Homo sapiens: one gene and its partner. The protein of the gene in region 1 purifies or fractionates together with the protein of each later gene. This does not show direct contact. Each region holds a gene or a part of one and is shown on either strand. Other genes may lie near its edges.

Region 1 (3,819 bases):
ATAAAGTGACTATATTATAATTAAGAACTCATGTTAAGCAAAAAACAGCATTAAGGTAGTCACAGAGTCACCAACAAAAGACTTTCATTGAAACTATGTTCAGAACCAAACAAAACTAAATCAGTGAAGAAAAGGTCAACCCCATAGAAAGGTGGGCAAAATATTTAACACTTCATCAAAGATGATACCCACATAGTGAAAGGTACTTAACCTCATTAATAATCAGAACTTGATATTTATTCTAGTTTTGGTGTAATGGCAAACTGTAAGCAATTTAAATACCAATAATGGGATCCACTAATTAAAGTTTTATATGTATCATAGGAATGCCATTTGGTCTTTACAAGTGATTTAGAGTAATGTAAGCTTAAATTAAAATGTTGATAGATTATGTATCCCATTTTGGTAAAAAAAAAAAACATACACATGAATATGTATTTGTGAAAAATACATTGCATGAAGTCTGGGAATATTTCAGAGTAGCTGTGCGTATAGATGATGGTATTTGGAATGATTTTAATCACATATCTTTTTTACTTATTTGTATTTTCTAGTGTTTTTAAATGGAGCATGTACTGTGTTATTTATGTCATTGACAAAATAGGATGTACCAAAATAGGGCAGTATATTCATTTTTCTATTGCAGGAATTAATTTTTTTATTAAATTTTGATCAAGTGAACCACCCCTTAGTGTTAAAAGTATGTGTTCATGCACCTAGGCATATAGTATGTGCAGTAGCAATACCGGAAGAATGTAATAGTTTAATATTCTAAAGAAATGTTCAAGTGACTATCCATTTTCTTTTCACTTAAATGAGTCTTAATTTTTTCTGCTTTTTCATTGCAGTTAATACCTGATTGCCTCCTCCTTATTTCTTCTGCCTGTCTACTTTCCATTCTGCTTTTACAATGCTTATATGTCCTTAATATTTTCTTCTGTTAAATTTTGATTGCACATCTAGAGAGTTCAGTGCTTTATAAGGTAAACTATATCATATAAACGGAATTCGTTTTTATAGCTTTAGGGTCTTAAATTTCCTTAAGAACTTATACAGAAAGAAAGTAATAGAGAAAGAATACAGAAAGCATATAGAAAAAAGTAATAGTTTAATATTCTAAAGGTATGTTCAAGTGACTATCCATTTTCTTTTCACTTAAATGAGTATTTTTTCTGCTTTTTCATTGCAATTAATACCTGATTGCCTCCTGCTTATTTCTTCTGCCTGTCTACTTTCCATTCTGCTTTTACAATGCTTACGTGTCCTCAATATTTTCTTCTGTTAAAATTTTGAATTTGCACATCTAGAGAGTTCAGTGCTTTATAAGGTAAACTATACCATATAAACGGAATTAGTTTTTATGGCTTTAGGGTCTTAAATTTCCTTAAGAATTTACTTTCATAATTTCATGGGGAAAAAATGACCCCTTTCTAAAGCACTCTTTTTGATAAAGTAAATAAATCTGTTATTTGAAAAATGACATAGGCATGTGGGTTTTAACAAGATATTTGTTTTCTGGCATTTTCTCTGTTATATCAAAGAGTGGTTTTGGTTTGTTTTGTTTTTTTTTTTTTTCTCGTCTGGATAGGATGTTATTTGACAATTCTTTTTTAAAAATGATGTGCCGTGTTTTGCCACAACTTCCAAAAAACTAAGAGATAAATTTAGGATTTATTGCACTAGTTAGCTCATCCATGTATACGTGTCTGCTTTAACTGAAAATTGTTTTTAGATCATTAATTGTTCCTTTTATCCTTTTTGAAAGTAGAAGCTAAAAAATGTGAATCAATGTGCATGCATGTAAATATATACACATATGTACATGTACTATGTAAACATGTTTTGGATTTCTTTTAGCCAACAAATGGAATTTTCTTGAGCATGTTTCTAATCGTTTTGCCATTGGAATCCATGGCTCATGGGCTCTTCCATGAATTGGGTAACTGTTTAGGAGGAACATCTGTTGGATATGCTATTGTGATTCCCACCAACTTCTGCAGGTACAGTAATCTAGTATAGTTAGTGATAACTATTCACTTCATAACATTTTCTTAATATTTATATGAATAAAATATAGCTCCTTTTCAAAACTGTTTTCAAAATATAACTTGTGCATTTCTTCCAAATTTTTAACAAACTTTATTCCAAGTGATAATATCTTCAGAGTTAAATTGAAATATTTTGATAAATATGATAAGCTTATATTTTAGCTAGAAACCAGAAAATATTCATGAATAACTTTTCTAAGGAAAGATCTTACCCTAAAGGGAATATTTTGTTAAGAAAGTGTCCTCTGGCTGGTCGTGGTGGCTCACACCTGTAATCCCAGCACTTTAGGAGGCCGAGGCGGGCGGATCACCTGAGGTCAGGAGTTCGAGACCAGCCTGGCCAACATGGTGAAACCCCATCTCTACTGAAAATACAAAAATTAGCCAGGTGTGGTGGCAGGTACCTGCAATCCCAGCTACTCAGGAGGCTGAGGCAGGAGAGTCACTTGAACCTGGGAGGCGGAGGTTGCAGTGAGCTGAGATAGGGCCATTGCTCTCCAGCCTGGGGGATAAGAGCAAGACTTCGTCTCAAAAAAAAAAAAGGAAAAAAGCAAAAGAAAGTGTCCTCTGAAGCAACATAGTGAAATATAGTAAAACGTGCTCTGGGCCTGAGAGGCTGGAGGTCTAGTTCTTTGTTACCTTTGGTACACTATAACTACTCTGAACCTTATTATCTGTCTTTGCCTAAAATGTATATAGTGATAACTCTTCTGTTCATCTGACAGGAATGGTATGAAGCACTAAAAAAAAAAAAAAAAAAAAAAAAAATGTAAAAACACTCTGCACACTGAAAAATGCCATACAAATACTAGGAATTCAGAGGATTGGCAGTGAAGTTTAATAAATGTTTATTGCAGTTTTATTCCAAAATAACTTTTACCCACAAAGGTGGTGACATCTGTATAAATCTGTAAATGTTGCTACATTTTGATTTTTATTTTATAGCTAACTACCTTTAAAATAATTCTTTGCCATAAATGAATTCTGATGACAGTTTTCATCACACTTTCCCTGGGGGAGAGGAGAGTGGAAGTAAAGTTTTTTCCCAATTTCAAGTATTTGACATAAAAATCTCCAAATAGACTATTTGTAGGAAATATTTTCCTTCGTTAAAGACTTAATACAAAGTTGAAGGTTTAAGAACTGAAGGAAACAGATTTGGAAATGTCACATAAAGTGAGAAATGACAACCTTGTAGAAAGAATGTGTGGAAATAGTAATATGCACAGTTAGATATTTATTCCATTGTAATTTTTTTAATGTATTCCTTACTCTTTTGTGACTGTAATGAAAAAAAGTTAGTAGAATAGTACTGATGATATATGAAGCAAAATCTAACGTTTTCAAAAATCCCGATAGAAATCCCTTTTCTGGATAGGAATGATGATTTTTTCTTTCTCAATATTAATGGTATTTTGCTAGTTATAAGACTTGCTTTATCATCTTTGTACTAGAGTACCATTTTATATTTGTTCTAGGAGTAAATCTAAGTCTTCAACTAGTGTCCAGTGGTATAAAGCAATGGACCTAAATTTTAATAACTTTTTAAATGCCTATTAATAGATAATTTCTTCTATTATTTATGTACCTTAAGTTAATAAAATTTGAACACAATTTTATTGACTATTTTTCAATACAGAAGTAAATATATAATTAAAATATTGCTTTTTTATTTTGTGTTATAATATTTTTAAAGAAGTTTTTTTAATAGTCCCCACCCAGATGTTCTTGAAACAGTGTAATCCTGCTTTTAAAAAACCTTGTCCAATAT
Region 2 (3,819 bases), about 38 Mb from region 1:
TTTTAGTAGAGACGGGTTTCACCATGTTGGCCAGGCTGGTCTCAGACTCCTGACCTCAAGTGATCTGCCCTCCTCGGCCTCCCAAAATGCTGGGATTACAGGCGTGAGCTACTGCACCTGACCTTGTTTCTACACTTTAAACCAGCTCCACGGGAGGCCACCTGAGGCCACCTGCTCCAATCCCAGGCAGTGACAATCGTGCAATGTCCCTGGAGCAGGAGTGAGATATCAGATGGACCTGTTCAGGACTGGGGGGGGTCTCACTCCCAGCTGGATCCTTCAAGCCCAGCGCAGCCCCCCAGATTCCACATGTGGGGCGGCAGGGACTCCAGGCCTGAACTATGCATAGCCAGAAGGGTCCATTGCAGGGCTGTGTAGACTGAGGCCCAGAGAGGAGGGCTGAGCAGTCCCAGAGATGCTTGGAGGGACCTCTGTGATAGCCTCGCTTGTGTTTTCCAGGCCCGAGCTGCTCACTGAGGGAGTCAAAGAGCCCATCATGGATAGTCAAGGTACCCAGCGCGGGGTCGGGAGCCATGGTGTGGGCGGGCAAGGGAGGGCCCCAGGCCTCTGCCACCAGCCCCTCCTCCTGCTGCCTCTGTCCTGCTCCCATCCTGGCCCTGGCATTCTCCCCACACCCCCACATTGGGTTTCCCCTAACGATGCCATCTTGGGTCCCAGGAACTGCCTCCTCACTTGGCTTCTCTCCCCCTGCCCTGCCCCCAGAGAGGGATTCCGGGGACCCTCTGGTGGACGAGAGCCTGAAGAGACAGGGCTTTCAAGGTAAGGTTGAGCTCACGGGGAGGTCTGTTGTCCCAGCACCAGGACATTGACCTGGTTTGGGTTTGGAGGGCCAGGCTGGAAGTGGGGAGGAGCTGGCCCCCAACTTCAGGGCCTAAGGGACCAGGCAAGCCAGGTTGGCAGCCCAGGCCCGGCTGTACCCTGCCAGCTCTGTGTTAGAGACTCCAGGGGAGAGGGGGTGCCTACAGGTGGACGGTCGGGGGAGCCCAGGAGCCTGCCTGCCCCCTCCCTGCCCCACCCCCCAGAGGTAGCTGACACGCCCACTCCTTTTTCAGCAATCAGCTGTGGTCTTAGTGCTTTGAAATCAGAATAGGAGCCAGACGCGGCACCTCACGCCTGTAATCTCAGCACTTGGGAAGGTCAAGGTGGGAGGATCGCTTGAGGCTGGGAGCTCGAGACAAGCCTGGACAACATAGAACCCGTCTCTATGTCTATTTTTAAGAAAAGAAATCAGAGGCCGAGTGCAGTGGCTCACGCCTGTAATCCCAGCACTTTGGGCGGCCGAGGCAGGTGGATCACTTGAGGCCAGGAGTTCAAGACCAGCCTGGCCAACATGGTGAAACCCCGTGTCTACCAAAAAAATACAAGAATTAGTTGGGCGAGGTGGCGTGCACCTGTGATCCCAGCTACTAGGGAGGCTAAGGCGGGAGAATCGCTTGAACCTGGGAGGCGGAGATTGCAGTGAGCCGAGATCATGCCACTGCACTCCAGCCTGGGTGACAGAGCAAGACCCTGTCTCAAAAAAAAAAGAAAGAGAGAGAGAGAGAGAGATGGTGGTCTGGGATCCCTCCAGCACATGCTGGCACTTGTCTTTGTTTGTTTGTTTGGATGGAGTTTTACTCTTGTTGCCCAGGCTGGAGTGCAATGGCGTGATCTCAGCCCACTGCAACCTCCGCTTCCCGGGTTCAAGCAATTCTCCTGCCTCAGGCTCCCAAGTAGCTGGGATTATAGGCACGTGCCACCACACCCGGCTAATTTTTGTATTTTTTAGTAGAGACGGGGTTTCACCATGTTGGACAGGCTGGTCTCGAGCTCCTGACCTCAGATGATCTGCCCACCTCAGCCTCCCAAAGTGTTGGGATTACAGGCATGAACCACTGCACCCAGCTTTTTTTTTTTTTTTTTTTTTGAGACAGAGTCTTGCTCTGTCACCCAGGCTGGAGTGCAGTGGTGCGATCTTGGCTCACTACAACCTCCACCTCCCAGGTTCAAGGGGTTCTCTTGCCTCAGCCTCCCAAGTAGCTGGGATTACAGGTACGCACCACCATGCCTGGCTAATTTTTGTATTTTTAGTAGAGATAGGGTTTCACCACATTGGCCAGGCTGGTTTCCAACTCCTGCCCTCAGGTGATCCTCCTGCCTCAGCTTCCCAAAATGCTGGGGTTACAGGCATGAGCCGCCGCGCCCGGTCACACTTGGGCGTTTTTAATGAACACTTTCTGGGTGAGGGTGTCTTGGTGGCTCATGCCTGTAATCCCAGCACTTTTGGAGGCTGAGGCAGGCAGATCACTTGAGCTTGGGGGTTCGAGGCCAGCCTGGGCAACATGGCGAAACCCCATCTCTACCAAAAACACAAAAAAGAAATTAGCCAGGTGCGGTGGTGCACGCCTGTGGTCCCAGCTACTCAGAAGGCTGAAGCAGGAGAATCGCCTGAGCCTGGGAGGTGGAGGTTCCATTGGGAGCCGCCAGGCCCATCCCCTGTGTCTGTGGGGACTGCCCATCCTCCTCCATCTGCTAGATCAGCTGGGCTTCCATTCCCTCGCTTGTCTCCAGCCCCCTAGTGACTTCATGAAGCCCCCGCCCCCTGCCTGCCAGCCCAGGGCACAGGACTCCGTACTCTATGGTGTCCCTCCCCTCCGGGGCTTATTTATTGGTTTGGTGGTTTTCAAATGTCATCAATTAACTTAATTTCCAACTCATCACTGTTGTGGCAACAGTGCATGTCCTTCTGAAAAAAAGACATCTCCATCAACATGTCGGTGCTGAAGGACCTGAGGGGCCCACTCCAAAGATCCTTTAATTGCCGGAGAAGGAGTTCCCCATAATTAGAAAATCATCTTCCTTAAAAGTCACCAAGTGCTTTTTCACTCAACAGCCCAAACCCATAATCGTTTTGCGCTTTGCAGAAAATTATGACGCGAGGCTCTCACGGATCGACATCGCCAACACACTAAGGGAGCAGGTCCAGGACCTTTTCAATAAGAAATACGGTAAGCAGTGCAGAACCCCCGGGGAGGGACACGCAGCTGCTGTGCACAGAGAAGTGGGAGGCTTCCCAGTTCCAGCCGAGGGCATTTCTGGGGAAACAATTCACCCCTTTACATGTATTTCTTGAGCATATACTACGTGCCAGGCACTGTCTCAGGCACTGGGGATATTGCTGTGAATAAAACAGACACAGTCCCTGTACTCATGAGCCTTGCAGACCAATGAGGTGAGATACACTTTCAAGAACTACACACAGAATTTAATAGACAAGGGCCCGGCACAGTGGCTCCTGCCTGTAATCCCAGCACTTTTGGAGGCTGAGGCAGGTGGATCACTTGAGCTCAGGAGTTCGAGGCCAGCCTGGGCAACATGGCAAAACCCCATCTCTACCAAAAACACAAAAAAGAAATTAGCCAGGTGCAGTGGTGCACACCTGTGGTCCCAGCTACTCAGGAAGCTGAAGCAGGAGAATCGCTTGAGCCTGCGAGGGGGAGGTTGCAGTGAGCTGAGATCGCGCCATTGCATTCCAGCCTAGGCAACAAAAGCGAAACTCCGTCTCAAAAAAAAAAAAAAAAAAATGGAGCATATGACATGGGAGCATATTGGTGTGGCTTTTTCTTTCGTTTCTTTTTTTTTTTTTTTTTTTTTTTTTTTTTTGAGACAGGGTCTCACTCTGTCACCCATGCTGGAGTACAGTGGCGTGATCATGGTTCACTACAGCCTCAAACTCCTGGGCTCAAGCAATCCTCCTGCCTCAGCCTCCCAAGTGGCTGGAACTACACCCCACTGGGCACTACCATGCCCAACTAGTTT

What was found.
Region 2: the proteins of TMEM168 (region 1) and GTF2IRD1 purify together in Homo sapiens (affinity purification with mass spectrometry; one large-scale study listed by BioGRID and IntAct). This does not show direct contact.

Annotation. Positions count from the first base shown.
Region 1 is NC_000007.14:112,773,357-112,777,175, reverse strand, and holds part of TMEM168 (transmembrane protein 168), read left to right. Parts: intron 1-1,857; coding exon 1,858-2,000; intron 2,001-3,819. UniProt on the Homo sapiens protein: Plays a key role in maintaining the cardiac electrical stability by modulating cell surface expression of SCN5A. May play a role in the modulation of anxiety behavior by regulating GABAergic neuronal system in the nucleus accumbens.
Region 2 is NC_000007.14:74,554,715-74,558,533, forward strand, and holds part of GTF2IRD1 (general transcription factor II-I repeat domain-containing protein 1), read left to right. Parts: intron 1-459; coding exon 460-509; intron 510-678; coding exon of another isoform or gene 679-723; coding exon 724-780; intron 781-2,924; coding exon 2,925-3,008; intron 3,009-3,819. UniProt on the Homo sapiens protein: May be a transcription regulator involved in cell-cycle progression and skeletal muscle differentiation. May repress GTF2I transcriptional functions, by preventing its nuclear residency, or by inhibiting its transcriptional activation.